Homo sapiens: one gene and its partner. The protein of the gene in region 1 purifies or fractionates together with the protein of each later gene. This does not show direct contact. Each region holds a gene or a part of one and is shown in the gene's direction. Other genes may lie near its edges.

Region 1 (6,101 bases):
TGCCAAAAATCTTTTAATTTTTGTGTAAGCAAATGTATGAAGTCTTTCTTTTATGTGCTTTGCCTTTAGTGTCATGCATAAAATGTCCCCTTTACCTCAATTATATATAGTAGCCCATATTCTCTCCTAGAATTTTGTGCTTTGTATTTTAAACTTAAACCTTTAACATATAAGATTAACATGTAAGATTTGGTATTTTAAGTAAAACAGACACTTAATTTTAAAATTTTCTTAGATGGTTAACACATTGTCAAAAAAATCCCACAGTAAATATATACCCTATTCATCACAGTCACTACATGTTAAACTCACCTATATTTAATCTCTCTCTCTATATATACATGCATATACACACAAGCATGCATATGCAAACACATATCTGTAAATATATCTGCGTGTATATTTATGTAGATAGAAACAAATATAAATATTTCTGTGTCTGTACTTTCTATTCTATGCCACTGATCTGTTTGTCTCCTCTGGCAATCATTGCTGTTTTAATTAAATATTTTACCTTAAAAATATCTTCTGATTTAGTAAAGCAAGGCTGACCCCTCCCCTCATTATTACTCCTTTTTTTTTTTTCTTTTCTGTTCTTATATTCTAAATTTTTTTTGGCTAGCATTTTAAGATGTTTCTTAGTTTTTGTTTTTCATCAACAGGCCCTTTGTCTTTTAAGTAGCCTTAATATTCTACTGTCAAGCATTCTTAGAATAGGTATCTAGTGTACTAAATGGAAATGCATAGCACTTAGTGCTGAGGAGTCCAAATGCCATGGAATCCCTGAAGAAATTATTGTGACCAGCATCAGTGGTGACTCTGAGTACTGACAACTTGAGTACAGAAGGAGCAGGAAGTGAGGCAATGTGAGGGTTCGACTGTGATTTCACATGGCCACACCCCAATTTATTTATGGAAAGTGCATGTGACATCTATTCACATATGTTCCTATCTTTATATTCTCCAGGATATGCCAAATAAAGTAACAACGCCAAAGGCAGTCTGTTTTAGAAAATCAATTAGAAGAGGGTAAAATGCAATCTTATGCACAAAATAGAAACTTAGCTCTTCTGACCCCTGGTATAACGTTGGATAAAACAAGCTAACGTTTTTAAGTGTTTTGAGCAGTTGACTCAGTCTAACTCGTTTTGTATGAAGTATTTTCCAGCATGGTGCAGCAGTGAAACTGTGTGCCCTTCTTGCAAACAGGTAAAGGTATAATTTTTGAACAGTTTTTGTTTTTTTGTTTGTTTGTTTTTTTTGTGGGGAAAATGAATCTACACCGATTCATTGACAATGTTGTCCAGTAAAGCCTCATGAGTAAAGGTACGTAAAAGGATGATCAGCTAAAATGAGACATGAAGCCTGTGGCTGAAGAAAAATATAATGTCATTGGCACACACGGGGCTTGTACCCAGGACTATGGCAGTGTTATCACCACGTTTTAATCAGTCACAACTGACATCAACGTGACCCCTGCTATATAGATTATCCAGCCTGGTTGGCATTCCAGTCTTAAAGAGTCAACCTCTCCCAGCTTCACTGATGTGTGATGGCATTTCACCCACTGCCATTCCAACCCTGTCCCCTAAAGAAGAGCATTCATGAGGTGTTATAAGTAATTGTTCCTTATTCATCATCAAAGTTCTTTAGTAAAAACCAGGAGTGACCAATAGACATTCACATGTCTTTGCTTAATTCTATTAAAAAAGACTGAAAAACTTCTCTGTACACCCTTTGGAAGTCTTTTTGCTTACTCAAGAGCAGAGCATAATCTATTTAATACAATTTTTCACTTATATCCAAAAGGTGGCCTTCTCTAATCTGGCTTTCAAGTTGGAAAGAGAAAAGTTAAGTTGATTCCTGATGGATTTTGCTCTAAAATTTAACCCTCGGGCAGTGAAAGCCTCTTTATCCCAACTGAGTAGCTGCTAAATGAGGCCCCTTTATAACCACTTCAGAATGCACTTTCAAAACAAAAGTTAGAAGGCCCTATGATCCATTCTCAAGAAGGATCTGTTTCTGTTCAAAACCAGTCCCGACCTTTCTGTTGAAGAAGAACAAAATAATGTAGTAACAAAAACACAAGTGGCTGCCAAAGGAAGAGAGAGAAAAAAAAAGAGTTCCTGTAAGGGACTGAAACAATAAATCTCCTCTCTGCTGAACTCCCAAAGGGAGTGTGTGTATTTCCTCCCGTTCTTTATCAGAGCCCCCAAAATAAGTAGGAATGGGCAGTGGCTATTCACATTCACTACACCTTTTCCATTTGCTAATAAGGCCCTGCCAGGCTGGGAGGGAATTGTCCCTGCCTGCTTCTGGAGAAAGAAGATATTGACACCATCTACGGGCACCATGGAACTGCTTCAAGTGACCATTCTTTTTCTTCTGCCCAGTATTTGCAGCAGTAACAGCACAGGTATTTTTGTCTCTTATTCCTCTGGTGGTACGGATTGGAAATCACTAGTAGGTGACTCAGCCTCAGTTTACTTTCAGGGATCTTCCCCTGACACTTAGATGCAGCAATTCCTTTGATGAGTTGAGTGTTTGGATGTTGACTTGGAGTGCGTGGAGAAGGCTTGAGAGAGACGGTATTTGTTTCTACTGAAGGGAAATGTTTGCGGGTACAGCAGCCTGAAAGCATGTTCGATGAAATCACAAAGTACTGGAAATATACAATGGCCTCTTTAGAGTATAAAAATCTGGGAATAGAATGCTGGTTAAAAATGTACTCTCTCTCAAAAATGTATTCTTTGCAGACATAGCTCAGAAATAATAAGATTGGCATGTGTGGGTGAAAGGCTGTAATCGGAGACATTATATTGCAGATGTTAGCCTGTATTTTTCCCAACTATTTTTCAGCTCTGATAAATTGAGGAGTTGAGTAAAGCTGCCTAGGGAAGTGAGTCCTAATATTTTGAGGTAGGGTGAATAGAGAGAGATTCATTTGATTACAGTCTATAGATTTTTGCTGAAGAAATATGCACATATCTAAACATATACATACATTTTGCATAACATTTCAGGAATTTATAAACATAAAAATCCTACCTATTGACTTCTGGTTAAGAAACTCAGATAAAAAATAGGTTTGTATCTTCATAAGCCTTGAGTATATCAATGGACAATTTCAAGAACGATTTACATTTGACTTTTAACCCTTCCTGAGTGATTGAAAATAAACTGTTAAATTTAATCAATATTTATTAGGTTCCTACCCTGTACTGCAAGGAATATAAAAACAAGTAAGACGTCCTTGCCCAAAGTGGTAGAAGTACTACTGGGAGAAATAAGCATGTGATTTTAATATAAAATAGATTTAATAAGTGTGAAAATTGAAGAACAAACTACCATAAAAGAACACAATTGGGAAAGACTGATTCAGACTCTGAGGGGTCTTGGGGGGAAAAAAACAAAAACATTCATTTCTAATTTTATTTTGCTCATTCTCAATTTAAAAGATTACTGCCTACAAAATCTTAATTTACAGTGATAATGTCGGAAGAAAATAAGTACATCCCTCCCTGAACAACATTTTATCAGTCATTTCTATGTAAATATCTATGTAAATTTAGTACAAATTCAAAAACACTTCAAATTCACGCACATTTGCTCATCATGCATCTTGGAGTTTCTGCGGTTAAGTTGCAGCTGGTATCAAGGCCAGAAAATTTCACTTAGAAGAGTTACTAGAATCTGATTTTTTAAAATAAAGAACATTTATGTGGTACCACAGAAATTATTGCATTAGCTTATAAGTAACTTCGGTCTGCTTGGGGAAGATTGATAGGAATCTCAATCCCATGGAAAATATTGCTCACAATTAGATGTGTCAGATTAGTATAAAGTCTGAAAGTCTGGCTTAGCCTGCTCGCTGCTCCAGGTCTGCAAGCATCGACGAGTGCAATACTTTGCCGGCATTGTTAAACTCTGAATAGATCATTCGTTCTTCCGAAAGTAAAGTGGAATAGCATCAATAGAAGTAGCCTGCAATACCTGGCCTTAAGAAAGACATGAAGATGAAGGACAATCCAGAGATGTACTGGCAGGTTTTTCTGTTATGGTCATTTTGGGAAAATACAAACCTCCTTTTGCTCACTGGTAATGAGCTCAACCTGTTAACAGTTCTTCTTTCTAATGAACTGTTAACCCCTGTAGGATAATTTCCATTTGAGCAGAGACAATAGTTACATAATAACTATCTCCTTCAAGTCAGCCAACAAGTCTACTTGTTAACTGAAGGCCAGTATCTGTAAACAAACAAACAAACCAAACCTACTCCATTTGTCTTAGAGAGGAGGCTATGCTCAAGAGTATAAATTGACCATTTGAGTGGAGCATGAAAGGATTGGAAGATAATTTCCCATCTACATGTATGATTTTGTTGTACCTGGTTCTGCCTGTTTTTTTGTTTGTTTGTTTGTTTGTTTGTTTTTGCAGATTGGGCACAGGGAAGAAAGCATTTCCTAAGCTGACTGAGTACCTTTATTTTTCCTTAACCCCTAGTTCCAGATACACATTTGATTTCAGAGTTTTACATGTTCCTCAAACTTAGGAATGATTAACATATTTCATCAGCAAAGTTGATTCTTGGGGGTGAGGAGGGAGGCATTTCATCTGCCTTAAATTCACAAGCTGTCAAGCAGATCCATGCTCTTTTGCGTAGTAATTTATTCCTAAATAATTATCTTTTAGATAAATTGACTACTTTTCTTTTCTTCTGATGTTTTTGTCAGTCTCAGATTTAAATAACTACAATACAGTCTTTCATGCTGTTTGTGAAAATCAAGGGAATCTTTCTACATCACAGTCAGTGAGTTACTTTTTATTACTTGGTTGGTGGTATAATATTTTTTCAGTCTCCAATTTGGAAAGCTGTTCTATTGAAATGTGTATGGAAGGTTTCTGAAACGGAACTGCCATTCTTTCTTAAGGTTTTCTAAATTGTATTTAAAACTGAACAGACCCCTACCCTGGCGTTTAAATCTAGATGTATGGATGAGCTTTTGACTTTCAGGGCTGAGAGAAGTTAATGAAGAGAGATTCCTCCAAGAAGAAGGAAACAATATGCACTTACTCATCAAGTGCCACTTGCTTTTTGAAATTTGCCTTAACTTGGGAAATATTAAAATGTTGTAGGCATTCTCAGACAGGGACAAACACCATTTTCTTTATTGGTATATGAAGAAGGATTTAATTGCTTGGAGAAATTCCTTTGTTAGTGATTGAACATTCAATTTCATGAAAAAGAAAGATTAAACACACTATCAGCAGACTCCATGCTAAATATCGTAAGTTTATAGAACTTAATAAAAGTTAACCCTCACCGTAGAAGTGGGGGAGAGAGGAAGATGAGGGAAGTTATTATCAATTTGGCTATATTGTAGGCTTTAAGAGGTAAATAAAGAATGACATAGAAAATTTACAACTAGCCTGGTTTTGGATGTAAGGACATCTGAAACGGCTACATATAAAAGTGGAAATTATTATAAGCTTTGAAGCTTGAAAATCAAGAGGTTCTAGAGGAAGGGAATTTATTGAGTAGATACATTGAAACATTGGTATATTCTAGTCTAGAAACATAAAGAGGTCACAATTTGGGCATAGTTAAGTACTGAGAAATAAGATTGGAATATAGCCTCAGGAGATATTGAATACCAGGATGAGAAATATTGACTCATATAGTTAATTAGTTTGAGTCTGTAAATGGTTTGAGTATGGGAATTATATGATCATGGCTATAAAATGGGAAGACTAATCTGTCAGCAGAATATAGATTAGACTACTGGAGTCAAGAGAAATAAAAGGTAAGGAAACTAGGTCAACTGTCATTGCAAGTCTGAGAGTGTGTCAATAAAATGAAAAGAAGGGTCTAGGAAGAGCTTTAAGGAAGTAGAAAGTGTGTGATTTGACATATCATTGACTGGCAGTGAAGGAGAATGTGACTGAAATGCAGAGACAGAGTTTTTTTTAATACCAGAAATAGGAAAATGGCTTGGGAGCAGAGATTAGGAAAGATATGAGGAGACGGTTTAGTGAGAAAAATGGTATTTGGTTTTGGACATGGTGATTTTGTAATCCTGATATTTATGTAGAGATGTTCA
Region 2 (4,548 bases), on another chromosome or scaffold:
AGGAACAAATGAGATAGAGTATGTGGCATGATTTGTATTATAGAGCATACAATCCAAATATGAGCTAGATAAGGCATAAAACGTGCAAGTACTACATACAGTGTTTCTAATTATATTACAGCTTTCATCTACGTGGTGTTCCACATTTTATATTTAAGCAAGAGCTTATAAGATTGACTCTCTCCCAGTTATCACAACTAATGAACTCTTAATGGGCAGCTACAAATATAGATTTTATCGGAAGGAGGAAATTAAAGTGATCAAGGAATTATTTTTTCTCCCCTGACATGTAAAAAGTAAAGAGACTGCTAATTAGAAAATATTTAGCTGTTCTTTATAAGTACCTGAATGGTCTGAATTTTCTGAGTATTCATTCTTCATTCAGATATAGGAAATGAAAAGTCAAAACCTTCTCTAAATATTGTCATTCAATGGATGTATCTCCTGGGCAAAAATGTAGTTAATTTTGTTTGTTAGAGCCATATACTAAGTGCTAGGTTTCATAGACAAGAGGCACAAACTGAGGTGCTTCCTTGCTTTGGTTTTGTAGTATAGCATATTTAGAGCACATCTAGAATAATGCTGTAAAAAGGAATTGCCTGAGCTAATAATATTATAAGAAATTGTTTATTCTGTTAATACAAGTACATAATTTTCTGCAACTCAGTTATTTGCACTCAATTATTAACTCCTTGAACATGACTTCAGCTAATGACTGCCACTCTGAAGAGATAAAATAGGATTAATGATCAAACTCCTTTATTTCTAAGGAGTGATTACATATGCAAATGAAAGGAGTAGTAGCATTTCAAATAAGTTCCACCAGAGAGTACTTTTCCTTAACCAATATCCAGGTATGTTAATGGGTACCTTTCCTTTAGAATGTTAACTTCGGGGTCCTAACTTAAAATCTAGGTAGCAAAATTAAAGGTGGTAAGAGCCAGGCTAAAGAGGACTAATTGAATTCTCTCTGTGGCCTTTGCTGTTAATAGTTCATTTTCTTTGTGTCCCACTTTACTCTCTTTTTCTTTTAGCCTTTTTATTTAAAGACTTAAGTATTTACCCTTCGAAAATCAGTGTCGTTTCTGGTGGGGAGAGAAGGTATTCACAGAGATGAGTCAGAGGCACATACAAATAACTTGTAATACAAAGTTAGATGTTAATGAAAGAAAAGGAAATGTTTATCCTACCTCATCCACAATACTAGTAAACTAAGTACTTACGATTTTTTAACTGTTTGTTTCTTCATTTGTGTAGCCAGACCTTGTTTCTTTTCCCCAGCTATCGTCAATTTGCTGATTAGGTAAATTCCTCACTGGTCTTTCTACAGGTTTCAAAAAGGAACAAGGTAGATTTTCAGAAACTGTTTTGGGTTGAAAATTATATATTAAAATGAAAATGATATAGTACCTGAAGACTGCTAGTAAATTTTGCTACAGTAAATTTATGATAGTTACCTTCTGTTGCCTGTAGTTGAACTGGAAACCTGACTTTGTAGGTTTTTTGTCCTTGGTTTCTAAGATCTGTCAACTTTTGATATACCCTCCTCTATATCTTTGGTCATCTAACTTCCCAACATGCATACACATAAATAGTAAATACAAATTAGTGATTTTTATAATTATATTGCAGGAAGGTTGTATGCTTTTCGGATGTTGGATTTTTATAGCGCCTTCATCATCTTTAGTGTTGGTTTCTTCCTTTGACTTTGTATATTTCTCCTAAGCCCCACTGATTTCTTGGTTATTTCTTGGTTACAGGCTGTCATGGTGGTCACCTGATCCTTACCTGATGTTACTGGTTACCTTGAGATTTTATCAGTGTCTGTGGTCTCTTCATCAGTTCTCTCCAAAGGTTTCTCTCACTGATTATCTTTCAATATTCTTAGACTTGAATGAAGCAGTCCCAGAGACAGAGCGCCTGGATTCAAAAGCACTGAAAACTCGAGCCCAGCTCTCTGTGAAGAACAGACGCCAGAGACCCTCTAGGACAAGACTGTATGATAGTGTTAGTTCCACAGATGGGGAGGACAGTCTAGAGAGAAAGGTGAGCACCCTTGACCGTTTCCTGATTTGTACTGTTGGAGTATATCATTGTTCCTACAGCTTATTGAAGATTATGATTTTTCTGCAAACAGAGTCTATGTCCTAGTTGGTAAGCAGCTAGAATAGTTCACGTCTTTGTCTCCTGAATTCTTTATATTGTTGTAATTCAAAATATTTTGTCTATTCATTCAGTGAACTAACCAAGAGCATTATCTGTATTGTCATATTTCATGATGGTGCTTTTGATATTCAGCTATTGGTTTTACTTAGTGGGAAATAATGAACGTACAAGTAATTGTTTCTGTAGGTCTTAGGTATATGTATTAGTGACGATGTTAATATGGTGAATTGGTATGAACCATGCATTCTCATCTGTAAATCAACAAAAACTGGTTTTCATGGGGATTCACTAATAAAAGGTTGGTCTTATTTCAAAGTAAGTATTGCATAGAACTGATACTCAGTGGCATAACCTTCCTTATAATCTCTTATACCAACAGCCATCAAACAGTTTCTATAACCACATGCATATTACCAAATTACTTCCACCTAAGGGTTTGAGAACGTCTTCTCCAGAATCAGATTCTGGTGTTCCACCCCTCACCCCGGTGGATAGCAATGTGCCCTTCTCGTCTGACCACATAGCTGAATTTCAAGAAGAACCACTGGACCCAGAAATGGGGCCTCTCTCCTCTATGTGGGGAGACACTTCACTGTTTTCTACTTCAAAGTCTGATCATGATGTGGAAGAATCTCCTTGCCATCACCAAACCACCAACAAGAAAATATTACGAGAAAAAGGTATTGTTAATTTCTTTTTCTGACTTCATAACACCTCAGCTTGTACAGTATAAAAATGACTTTTTCTCATAATCATAAGTCATTTGTTTTCTCATAGCTAATAATTAATATTAATTTCTTTTTATATTATAGAATAAGAGAAACAACCCCTCCATGTATTTTACTTTAATTTAGTTTTATCTTTTCCTATCTGGTTCAGTATTTTTATCTCTTCAGCTCTCTATAAGTTTACTACTCAAGGGAGTTCTTCAGGGGAGTGGGGCAGCCCAGAGTTTCAACAAACACTAACACAGTCATAAAGAAAAAAACACTACATAGTCATATAGAAAAATATAGAGCGATTTTGTAGAATAGCAGCCCAGAGTTTCAGTAAACACTAACGTAGTCATATAGGAAAAAAAGACGAAGATCAAAGTAACACAGGCATATAATTGATACTTAATAATGTTCTTGGATGAATTGCTAATATACCTCTCCACGTAACCAGTGCAGATCTTCTAGAAGAGGGATAATCAACCGAATGTAGTCTCCACCTGCTTTTGTAAATGAAGTCTTATGGGAGTACAGTCACACTTTTTTACTTACATACTATCTATTTTCATGCTACAGTAGCAGTGTTGAGTCGTTGTGACAGAGACTGTGTATCTCACAAACCTAAAATATTTTACTCTGTGGCCCCTGAAAGGTAAAGAAAGCTTCCTGATGCCTGGTCTAGAAGTATATTTTCTTATACTCAAAATTGCTGGATAAACTCTGAAAATGGCTTCATCATTGGTTGCCATTTATCTAGAATTTTTAAAAAGTGTTATACCTTTACTTTTGGTCTATCAAGTTACCACAAAGATGATTAATTACAGCCATGTTTGATTGCAGGCTTGAGGATAAGGCTCTGGTTACCCTAACAGGAGTTGGCGATTTTCTGAATTGTGTCAATACCACATTTACAAATCATTTTTTTTCATATCTGAGGGACATCAGTGGAAATTAGGATGGAGAAGTCCCATTATAACTGGCTAAATGATAAGCATCTAACGGAATATCAAATTAGAGGAAGTAAAAGATTTTTTTCTAGAGATTTGTAAAACAGGTTATATGCCAGTAGAAGGCATGAAAATATTTTCCTCGTTCCTGTTATATAAACAACCTAATACTAAAGTTTTGGTCCCGAGGCTTACATAGCACTGGGCCTTTGTTCAGTCAAGATTAAATAAAGTAAATTGAACACTATCAATTTTCTACTCACAATTACTAGAGATTATTATTCTAATTTTTTGTGTGGTTAATAACACATTATTTGACCCAGAAGATGTGTTCAAAAATATTCATTGAATTAATGTCTAGTAAATAGAAACTGGCTTTTTTAAAGCTTTACAGGATTTATTGCTTATTAAAAGCATTGGGCCTCTGCAAGTATAGATAGAGTACAATTATATCAACGCTCAGAAGAGAGAGAGATTGCGTCCAGCTGAGGTTGGTAAACAAAACCTATCCAAGGAAGTACAATTAGAATAGCCATCAAAGCACTTAAGGGAAAAAAAGGGTAGGTAAGGAGGGAATAGCGGGTAAAGTGATGTCATTAACAGAGACAGGCACATATCATATGATTTAAAGGTACAAGGCTATCCCAGCCTGGCTGTAGCAGTTTGCTTATGCAGGGTGGAGTAGTTACACACAAAAGTGAGCCAGTAGGTTAAGTATATAG

The links.
Region 2: the proteins of EMCN (region 1) and PPP1R9A purify together in Homo sapiens (affinity purification with mass spectrometry; one large-scale study listed by BioGRID and IntAct). This does not show direct contact.

Annotation. Positions count from the first base shown.
Region 1 is NC_000004.12:100,514,166-100,520,266, reverse strand, and holds the start of EMCN (endomucin isoform 1 precursor), read left to right. Parts: upstream 1-2,244; 5' UTR 2,245-2,352; coding exon 2,353-2,416; intron 2,417-6,101. UniProt on the Homo sapiens protein: Endothelial sialomucin, also called endomucin or mucin-like sialoglycoprotein, which interferes with the assembly of focal adhesion complexes and inhibits interaction between cells and the extracellular matrix.
Region 2 is NC_000007.14:95,266,662-95,271,209, forward strand, and holds part of PPP1R9A (neurabin-1), read left to right. Parts: intron 1-1,888; coding exon 1,889-2,046; intron 2,047-2,545; coding exon 2,546-2,846; intron 2,847-4,548. UniProt on the Homo sapiens protein: Binds to actin filaments (F-actin) and shows cross-linking activity. Binds along the sides of the F-actin. May be involved in neurite formation. Inhibits protein phosphatase 1-alpha activity.